Homo sapiens: one gene and its partners. The protein of the gene in region 2 interacts with the protein of the main gene of each other region in a pairwise test. Each region holds a gene or a part of one and is shown on either strand. Other genes may lie near its edges.

Evidence for each region.
Region 1: the proteins of SRSF4 (region 2) and HTATSF1 interact in a two-hybrid assay, tested with the Homo sapiens proteins (one large-scale study listed by BioGRID and IntAct).
Region 3: the proteins of SRSF4 (region 2) and SRRM4 interact in a two-hybrid assay, tested with the Homo sapiens proteins (one large-scale study listed by BioGRID).

The regions. Positions count from the first base shown.
Region 1 is NC_000023.11:136,504,092-136,507,591, reverse strand, and holds part of HTATSF1 (17S U2 SnRNP complex component HTATSF1), read right to left. Parts: intron 3,229-3,500; coding exon 3,129-3,228; intron 1-3,128. UniProt on the Homo sapiens protein: Component of the 17S U2 SnRNP complex of the spliceosome, a large ribonucleoprotein complex that removes introns from transcribed pre-mRNAs.
Region 2 is NC_000001.11:29,150,901-29,154,400, forward strand, and holds part of SRSF4 (serine/arginine-rich splicing factor 4), read right to left. Parts: intron 1-3,500. UniProt on the Homo sapiens protein: Plays a role in alternative splice site selection during pre-mRNA splicing. Represses the splicing of MAPT/Tau exon 10.
Region 3 is NC_000012.12:119,145,541-119,149,040, reverse strand, and holds part of SRRM4 (serine/arginine repetitive matrix protein 4), read right to left. Parts: coding exon 3,356-3,500; intron 1-3,355. UniProt on the Homo sapiens protein: Splicing factor specifically required for neural cell differentiation.

The sequences.
Region 1 (3,500 bases), on a different chromosome or scaffold from region 2:
AGTGCTTTGCTTTCTTTCTTTTTTTTTTTTGAAGACAGAGTCTTACTCTGTTGCCCAGGCTGGAGTGCAGTGGCGCGATCTTGGCTCACTGCAGCCTCTGCCTCCCGGATTCAAGTGATCCTCGTGCCTCAGCCTTCCAAGTAGCTGGGATTACAGGTGCGTGCTATCATGCCCGGCTAATGCATTTGAGTTTTGACTCTTCATGTCCTGGTATTCAAATTTGCCAGGCAATGCATTTTAAAGTAAGGATTTGAATTAAATACTGAAGACCCTCTGAAGTTACATTAAAAATGTTAGCCTTCAGATCAGACAGTATTCTTAGGTATGTTGCTTCTAACTGTTTGGAATCAAAATATACCCCTCCACCCAAAATCTGACTCCTTTCAGATATCTCAGGATAACCTGACAATTCAGTTTTTGTTTTCCACTAAAAAGCTCAATGCTGCTGTGTGTTCTTTAGGTTCATATGGAGTCTTGAGTCAAATCAAACACTCCCCCAAAACATGCAATAAAAGCAGGTTTTCCTGTTGGACACTTCTATCAAAAGTTATATAATGTCTATACCAGTGTTGTCCAATAGAAGGTTCTGTGATAATGAAAATGTTGTATATCTGCATTATCCAATATGGTAGCTACTAGCTACATGTGCCTAGTAGAAGCGATGAACTGAATTTTATTTCATTTTAATTAACTTACATTTAACCACACATGGCTACAGTCTACCATATCTGACAGCACAGGTCTACACTGAGGTTCAGGTGCTCAGAGACAGTGAACAAAAGCAAGATTATTTGTCACTCTTCTTGTTGACACGCTCTCAGCAAGCTAGTTGGACCATGTGAGGCCAGGAAGGTGGGCAAACAAGGATAGCATCACCAAGCATTTCTTTGTGAACTAATTCCGCCACGGCCAAGACAATGTCCCACCATCCTTTGTGGAATAAGCATCTAAGAAGAAAATTTGCTTTCATTTGCAAAGATGCTGAAGAGAAAATGTTTTATCCACTGGCTGAATGAAAAGACTCTGGCTTGTAAATAACAAGGGTTTCATTTAGCAATTCTTTCAATTCTTCATCACATAAATATTAAGGGCCAACTGTGTGCCAGGCAAATTCTATGTACTGAGAATACAGCAGCAAACAAGGTAGACAAAATACTGGGTGTCATGGAGCTCACATTCTAGTAGACGAGTCAAAATTACTTCAGATAATAATAAATGCTATGAAGGAAACAAAATAGGGTAGTATAAAGGCTCTGTAACTCCAAAGTAATGTTTATACTAAACCAAGAAGATTAAAAAAAAAATCAGGAATTTGCAAGCATGAAACTTCTATCTTTAAAAATATTCACTGGAGGGAATGTATAGGGGTCAAGGTAGAATAAATGTGGTTTTGGGGAAAGAATATTTGTTAAGCTGGGAAGAGCTAAGTCTGCCTGGGGTGATCCTTAGACTCAAATAAGGTATTTCAATGAGCAAGGCAGGAGGTAGAAACAAGAATAGATTAAAATTACACAACAGACTTCTACTTGCAGAGGTTCCAGATAGTTTGAATTAGGTTTGCATTTACATTCACACTTGGGTGGCAGGAGTATGAAATGTGTGAATCAAAGACCTCGAGTCACAGAAATAAATATGTCACCTAATAAATCACTTATTTAGCAGGGGGATAAAATGTAATAAATAATAGGAAATCCCGGAGTTGTATTTAGCAGACTAAATATTGTGATCAATCTGTGCATTTATTTTATATGCTGCTTTAATGACTATGATCTGGTTCTTTGTTTTGTTTTATTTTGTTTTGTTTTGAGATGGAGTCTCGCTCCGTTGCCCAGGCTGGAGTGCAGTGGCGCGATCTTACCATAACCTCTGCCTACCGGGTTCAGGTGATTCTCCTGAATCAGCCTCCTGAGTAGCTGGGATTACAGGTATGCGCCACCATGCCCAGCTAATATTTTTGTAATTCTATGCATTCATTTTAAAGTTATTGCTGGCAAAAACAGTATTTCAAAATGCATCTGGTGTGCACGTGTTTATAAACCATACTTCATTATCACTGCAACTGTAAAACTGTAAACTGTTATATTTCAAAATTCTTCCAGATTTCTAGTCAGAAGAGATATCAATCAATCTCATAAATAAACCAGACGTATATTTCCAATGACCTCAAAAGATGCCCAAACTCCATAGGTACACAGTAAACCTTATCACAACACTATTCATTGAGATAGAGCTGAACTGTCCATTTTGGGGCCCTCTCTAAGGGAGCTACAATTATATTACCATTTTGACTGTTTAAATGCACAAAAGGGTCAGGAATGGGCACTAATTTACAACTAGATTATTGGTAAAAACGGAATTTTACGTTATGAACATTTTTCTCTGTATAACTTGCTATCTGTATAACCTGCTTTCTGTATAACTTGCTATCACTAATTTCAGAACCAGGGAGAGAATAAAGAGTTGTTTCTCCACAACAATAAAGTCAGTCTACACCAGTAGACAGAGATAAGAATACAGGCAGAATGTAACACAAGGTACTTTGATGACAATATTCCTCAGAACTCCTTGTTCTTTGCTTCTCCTTTATTCACTTTTTTGAGGGGAGGAAGGACAGTTCCATTAACTTTTTTTAAAATCACTTAAAAAAGTTGATACATAACAGATGTACTTATTCACTTTTACTTGCTGTTCTTGGAATTTTCCACGGACATTAAATATTATAACTTTTAGTACCAAACTGAAGTTTGCATTTACAATTGTGAAGCTGGTACTCCCCACCAAAATCAGGCCATACTTGTTGGCTTGCACTGAAAATCCACAAGCAGTTCCCATAAATCTTTTGATGATGATATTTTTCAATGGTTTCCCATACCAAGTAGCTGCTGCTTGGGGCGCAGTATGGTTATTAAACAGTCTTATCTGTGATACACTTTAAAACAATACTGGGCTAAACAAAGGGAAGGGAAATCAAAAGACTTAAGTAGCTTCTTGGCTCCATCTTCCTTTACTACTCGCTGCACAAACACGTAGGAGGTGACAAGACAAAGATGAGGCGAGGCAAGCTCCAGGCTCCCTTGAGAGAAAAAAAGCCTATCAGCATTTCTATCAGTAAGCACACCACTTCCTACCTCAAAATCCATAGGATGAAACATATTCTTGATGATGACAACTCGCTCATGGCGCATCCGGGATGGTCCGGCTCGCCTCTCAGGTCTCCAATCCAACTGCCTGAGGCAATGAAGCAGTAACAACAAACTGTAAATTTTGCTTCAGACTTGTTGGAGAGAGAAAAGAATGAGTTGTTCATACAATACTTTACTGAGTATTTAATAAAGATAATTACTGGATTTTACAACAACAAACTGTATTTCAGTCATAGTTCCAGTCAGAAAACTTTCTGAAATAAAAATAATGGGCAGGGGGCCGTGTGCGGTGGCTCATACCTATAATCCCAGCACTTTGGGAGGCCGAGGCGGGCGGATCACTTGAGGCCAGGAGTT
Region 2 (3,500 bases):
ATCTCTCCCCTTGTTCAACAACCAGCCTTTCTGTGTATACTTTTCCCCTTTACGATCTATTCAACTCACTGTGACGAGAGCTGTTTTAAAGAGACCGACAATCCAAGCTTTACAAAATTTTTTTAATGCATCCAGACTGTAGATTCTTATTTTCTACCAACCAGGACTCCTTGGGAAAATGACTGACTCCAGGCGTAAAGCAGGAAGTAGTACACAAAGATGGGCCTAGACCATCTCATTATGACAGAAAGAGGGAAACTTTCAAAGCTGCCCAGGCACCATCACCTATGAAGTATTCTTGCTAAAAATGTTTAACCTGCATCTCAATCACACCTCTCCAGACCTAACTTCCAGTATATAGGAAGTTCAGGGGATAAGATACAAGTTCAATGATACTAAGAAGAAACAGATAAATACAGAATGTGAGTATTAAAAAACTAAGAAAAATAAGCCAGGAGTGGTGGCTCACGCCTGTAATCCTAGCTACTTGGGAGGCTGAGGCAGTAGGATAGCTTGAACCTGGGACGCAGAGGCTGCAATGAGCTGAGATGGTGCCACTGCACTCCAGCCTGGGCGACAGAGCAAGAGTCCGTCTCAAACAAACAAAAAAACCCAAACCTAAGCAAAATAAATGTCATGAAGGAACTGCTCCACACTAAAAGCCTGACTACATTAGGTTTTACCTAAAAACCCCTTGTACTACATGACTGGATTAGATCCCGGTTAAGAAAAAACCCAGCTATAAAGACATCCATGGAGTAACTGGGGAAACATGAATATGGCCTGGGCATTTAGTAATTAGATGGAATTACTATTAATGTTCTTAGGTGAAAAAACAGAACTGTGGTTATCCTCATTCTTGGAGACACATGCTGAAGTATTTAGGGGCAAAGTATCATAATTTCTACAACTTACTTTCAAATGCTACAACAAAATAAATGTACAGTGTGCTTGTATAAATACATACATACAAAGAGAGAAAAGGCAAAATGCTATCTGTTAAAGCCAGAGGAGGGTATACAGGTGTTCATTAACTATTCTTTCAACTTTTGTTTGAAGAAACCAATTGCAAAAATACCTATTTGAGACAACTAGGGCAGGGTGCAGTGGCTCACGTCTGTAATCTCAGCACTTTGGGAGGCTGAGGTGGGAGGACCGCTTGAACCCAGGAGTTCAAGACCAGCCTGGGTAACATAGCAAGACTCCATTTCTACAACAAACAAACAACTGAAAAATTGGAATACAACCTAGATATTACATCATAGTATGGAATTATTGCTAATTTTGCTAGCTATGTTATCATGGTTTCTTTTAAAATACTACAGATACATACTGAAGCAGTTGCAGATGGAATGATAGATGTCTAGACTTGCCTTACAACAATGCAGCAGGAGCGGGTGATGTGAAACAAGACTGGCAAAATAAAAACTACAGAAGCTGGAGGAGTGGGAGGTGCAATTCAGAGTTCTCCAATGCTTCATATATAAATTTCAAATTTTCCATAATAAAAAGTCAAAAGACCTAAATAACAAAACCTGAAAAGTCTCCAGTGACTTCTCACTACTCTTCCATTCTTGCTCTGGCCTAATGGTCAGTATATCTGGTCCTTCTCTGCCTTATCTCAAGCCACTCTCCTCCCGTTACCTCTCTATATTAGCTTCTCTACTCTGGAAAACTTTCTCCTGCCCCCAGGCCTTCAGAAACACCCTTTTCTGTTAGATAGATAGGCATTTTCTCGACGGGCACGGTGGCTCAAGACTGTAATCCAAGCACTTTGGAAGGCCGAGGTGGGTGGGTCACCTGAGGTCAGGAGTTCGAGACCAGTCTGCCCAACATGGTGAAACTCTGTCTCTACTAAAATTACAAAAATTAGCCAGGCATGGTGGTGTGCACCTGTGATCCCAGCTACTCAGGAGGCTGAGGCAGGAGAATCGCTTGAACCCGGGAGGTGGAAGTTGCAGTAAGCCGAGATTGTGCCACTACACTCCAGCCTGGGTGACAGAGTGAAAGAAACTCCGTCTCAAAAAAAAAAAAAGAAAGAAAGAAAGGCATTTTCTTCTGCTCACCATCTCTCTGCCTTATTCATTAGGGCTCAGTTCTACAGCATGTCCTTAGGGAAGCTGTTGCCAGCTCTCTAGACTAGTTGTGCTGTGTGCATTTTCTTGTCACAATAGCACGGTTTATTCAATACTCATCTTCTACGCTAGACTGAGTTTCAGGGGGGCAAGGACCATATTTGTCTTTTTTTTGAGACAGAGTCTCTTTCTGTCGCCCAGGCTGGAGTATAGTGGAGTGATCTCTGCTCACTGCAACCCCTGCCTCCTGGGTTCCGGTTTAAGCGATTCTCCTGCCTCAGCCTCCCTAGTAGCTGGGACCACAGGCGTGTGCCATCATGCCTGGCTAATTTTTTTTTACTTTTGTATTTTTAGTAGAGATGGGGTTTCATCACGTTGGCCAGGCTGGTCTTGAACTCCTGACCTCAGGTGATCCACTCGCCTCAGCCTCCCAAAGTGCTGGGATTACAGGTGTAAGCCACCGCGTCTGGCCATTTGTCTTCTTTACAAAGCCTTTCCAATGCTTAGCCCAGTGCCTGGCCTGTTCAGGTGCTAAGTAAGACAAAATTGCCATGTGTGCCATCAACCAAGGTAGTAGGATCTAGGGGTCCCAAGAAGAAATGTGAAAGGTGGCCTCTGATTTCCATTTTTTTTTTTTTTTTTGAGACGGTGTTTTGCTCTTGTTGCCCAGGCTAGAGTGCAACGGTGCGCTTGGCTCACCACAACCTCCGCCTCCCAGGTTCAAGCAATTCTCCTGCCTCAGCCTCCCGAGTAGCTGGGATTACAGGCATGCACCACCAACGCCTAGCTAATTTTTTTGTATTTTTTCAGTAGAGACGGGGTTTCTCCATATTGAGGCTGGTCTCGAACTCCTGACCTCAGGTGATCTGCCCGCCTTGGCCTCCCAAAGTGCTGGGATTACAGGCGTGAGCCACTGTGCCCGGCCTCTGATTTCCCTTTTTGAGATGGAGTCTCCCTGTCGCCCAGGCTGGAGTGGAATAGTGCGATCTCGGCTCACTGCAACCTCTGCCTCCTGGGTTCAAGCGATTCCCATGCCTCAGCCTCCTGGGTAGCTGGGACTACAGGTACGTGCGCCACCACACCATTTTTTTTTTTGAGATGGAGTTTCGCTCTTGTTGCCCAGGCTGGAGTGCAATGGCACAATCTCGGCTCACTGCAACCTCTGCCCCTACTGGGTTCAAGCAATTTTCAAGCAATTTTTCTGCCTCCGCCTCCCGAGTCACTGGGATTATAGGCACCCACCACGCCCAACTAAATTTTGTTATTTTTAGTAGAGACAAGATTTCGCCATGTTGGCCAGGCTGGTCTCGACTCCTGACATCAGGTGATCCACCCACCTCGGCCTCCCAAAGTGCTGGGATTACAGACATGCGCCACAGCGCCCAGCATTTTTGTATTTTTAGTACAGATGGGGTTTCACCATAT
Region 3 (3,500 bases), on a different chromosome or scaffold from region 2:
ACAGAGAAGTCTCAGAAGGGTTTGTTATTTCCTCAAAACCACCCAGAGCCCCAAACCTTGATCTGTGCAGCTCCAGAGTCCCCACCCCTCCCACCTCACCAGCTCCCTACCTTCAGTGTCTATGGTTCCTTTGATTTAGAGCTGATGTCTCTTCCACTCAGCCCATATTTATTGAGCCCTCTCTGCTCATAAGTGGCATGACATAAACAGTCATGGACTCAACCATCATTTATATTTCAAAGTGAAAGGCTGGGTCTAAATTACTTAATTTGGCTGTCCATGGAGATCAAATTAAACAGGTAACTGCTAGATGTCTCTCAGGCTTTAGTTCCTGTTTGGGGGACATATTTGTATTTGAATTCTGGTGCTGCCACTTATTAACTGAGTTTCTCAACCACTCTGAGCCTCAGTTTCCCCATCAGGTAAAAAAGGGTTACAAATAGTACTGTCCTATAAAGGTTTTGAGGAGCTCGGGAAGATTATTTCTGGAAAGCATTTGGCAGTGTACCTAGCATGTGATTTGGGCTCAACGAATATGAACTGCCGTTATTATTGTTGTTGTTATTGCTATTTCAATTTTTCCTGCATAATAGCACTGCTGTATATCAGTAAACATGTGTCCTCCTCCTCCCTTCTGGGAACTTCACTGCCTGTTCTTGGAGACACTGACATTGGCTCTGGCCCAGCTCAGGTTCTCAGTCAAGCTTGGGTGTGAGCTGAGGCCAGGGATGACCTGGGGCAGGCAAATGGGAAGGCAGTTCTGCATGTGGATGTCAAGCTGTTTGTCCAGGACTGAAATGGGGTATGTGTTAGGGACAAAGAGTGCTCTGTCTTTGAAGAAGCTGTTAGCTGCTTCAGTGCTAAGGCGTTAGTCATCTTTTGAAAATTTTGGCTATATGGAACAAAGGCAAACTCCCACCCTCAGAAGTAGAAAAACCTCACTGTTAGCATGACAGAGGGCACCAGCAAAGCTTTTCCACCCATCCCGCAACTGTGCATCTGCCTCATTAATTATAAGCTCCTGAGAAAAAGGACTGTTCCATTTTTAAATCCCCAGCACCAGGCTGAGTGTCTGGCAGAGAGGACTTGCCTGATAAACAAGTTGAGGAATAAACAACAGAATGAATGGTACAGACTAAGTGATCAGTAAATTTTAGTAGCTATTATGATGACAGTAACCTCAGTGATTAGCATTTTGTTGTGATTTCTTGAGTGAGAGAGTTAAGCGGATGACGAAGTAGAATTACAACTGGCTCATATGCATCTGTGTGGAAGAGTTTTCTGCAGGAAAACTGCATCTAGTGAGTGTGTTAAGATGGGTAAAAAAATGGAGAAATCTCAATGTTCTCTGATATGTTGATAAATTATACTATGGTATATCTGTATCTATAATTAATAAACTTTATTTTTTAGAGCAGTTTTAGTTTCATAGCATGATTGAATGGAAAGCACAGGGAGCTCCCATATACTTCTTGCTGCTACACACGCACAGCCTTATTCCCCACTATCAGCATCCTCCACCAACGTGGTCCATTTGCTACAATCGATGAACCTCCATTGACACATCATTATCACCCAGAGTCTATAGTTTACATCAGAGTACCCTCTTGGTGTTATACATTCTATGGATTTGGACAAATGTATAATGACAGTTATCCACCATTGTAGTGTCACACAGAGTAGTTCCATTGCCCTAAAAATCCTCTGTGCTCTGCCTATTCATCCCTCTGTCCCCTCACCCTCTGGCAACCACTTATCTTTGTACTTTCTCCATAGTTTTGCCTTTTCCAGAATGTCATACAGTTGGAGCCATGCAGTGTGTGACCTTTTCACATTGGCTTCTTTCACTTAGTAATATGCATTTACATTTCCTCCATGTCTTTTCATAGCGTGGTACCTCATACCTTCCGAGCACTGAATAGCATTCCATTGTCTGGACGTATCATAATTTATGTATTCATTCACGTACTGAAGGATATTCTGGTTGCTTCCAAGTTTTAGCAATTACAAATAAAGCTGTTGTAACATCCAAGTGCAGGTTTTTATGTAGAGATAAGTTTTCAATTCATTTGGGTAAATACTGTGATATGTTCTTTTTTTTTTTTGAGATGGAGTCTGGCTCTGTCACCCAGGCTGGAGTGCACTGGCGCAATCTCGGCTCACTGCAAGCTCCACCTCCCAGGTTTATGCCATTCTCCTGCCTCAGCCTCCCAAGTAGCTGGGACTACAGGCGCCCGCCACTATGCCTGGCTAAATTTTTGTATTTTTAGTAGAGACGGGGTTTCACTGTGTTAGCCAGGATGGTCTCGATCTCCTGACCTCGTGATCCACCCGCCTCGGCCTCCCAAAGTGCTGGGATTACAGGCGTGAGCCACCGCACCTGGCCTGTGATATGTTCTTAAATGACTTACAATTAATTTAATGTTAGACTTTCTTTCATTTTTTTTTTCTTTTGAGATGGAGTTTCACTCTTGTTGCCCAGGCTGGAGTGCAATGGTACAATCTCAGCTCACTGCCACCTCCGCCTCCAGGGTTCAAGCAATTTTCCTGCCTCAGCCTCCCGAGTAGCTGGGATTACAGGCATGTACCACCACACCCGGCTAATTTTGTATTTCTAGTAGAGACAGGGTTTCTCCATGTTGGTCACGCCGGTCTCGAACTCCTGACCTCAGGTGATCCACCCGCCTCGGCCTCCCAAAGTGCTGGGATTACAGGTGTGAGCCACCACGCCTGGTCAATGTTCGACTTCCTTCTAAGATTACTGGTAAAATTGTCATCTGTTTTTTTGCCTGCCTAGCCTCCATCTCTCCTGATACCAATAACCTGGCTTTTCCTGTAGAGGAGTGTGGGAAGGTTCGACTCATTAGCCCTAGTGATGGCATCTGACACATTCTGGCCAACAGCATAGCATCCCCTGGGACAGTGATGGGCAGATGACCTAAGCTGGGCCAAACAGAACCAATAAGCACCTGCCTTGGTGTTTGGCTGAAATCTTTGAGAAAGAAGCATTGTTTTCCTGTTGGCTGGCTAAACCAATAGAATGTTAGCTGCTTGGCATATTTGACAATGCTTTGGGAGGATCTGCTTGAGAATAAGGCCAGTAGGATGAGGAAGCAGAATAAGAGATGTAATGAGAAAGACGGATTTCCAGCAACATATTTTTGAACCCCTGAATCCAGCTGTACCTGAAGCTAGTGCCACTAGTGTTTTAAAACAAGCCAGTCTGAGTTGAGTTTCATCTCTCTTACAAATAAAATAATCTTGGGGGTGGAGTGGGGGAGGCTGGGATGAGAGCATGAGAAGGTGGAGCTAAGGTGGGAGACCGTCTACCCCCGACCCTGTGTGGTGCACTGACCTTGACTCTCTGCCCCTGCTGGTGGGGGAGAGATTCTCCAACATGGCCCCCTTGTTCTGGGGTGAGGAGGTGGTGAAGGAGTTCCCTGAATCAGAGGTGTTGCCACTGTTGAGCTCCCGGCTCTTGCTCAAGCCCCCACTGGGGC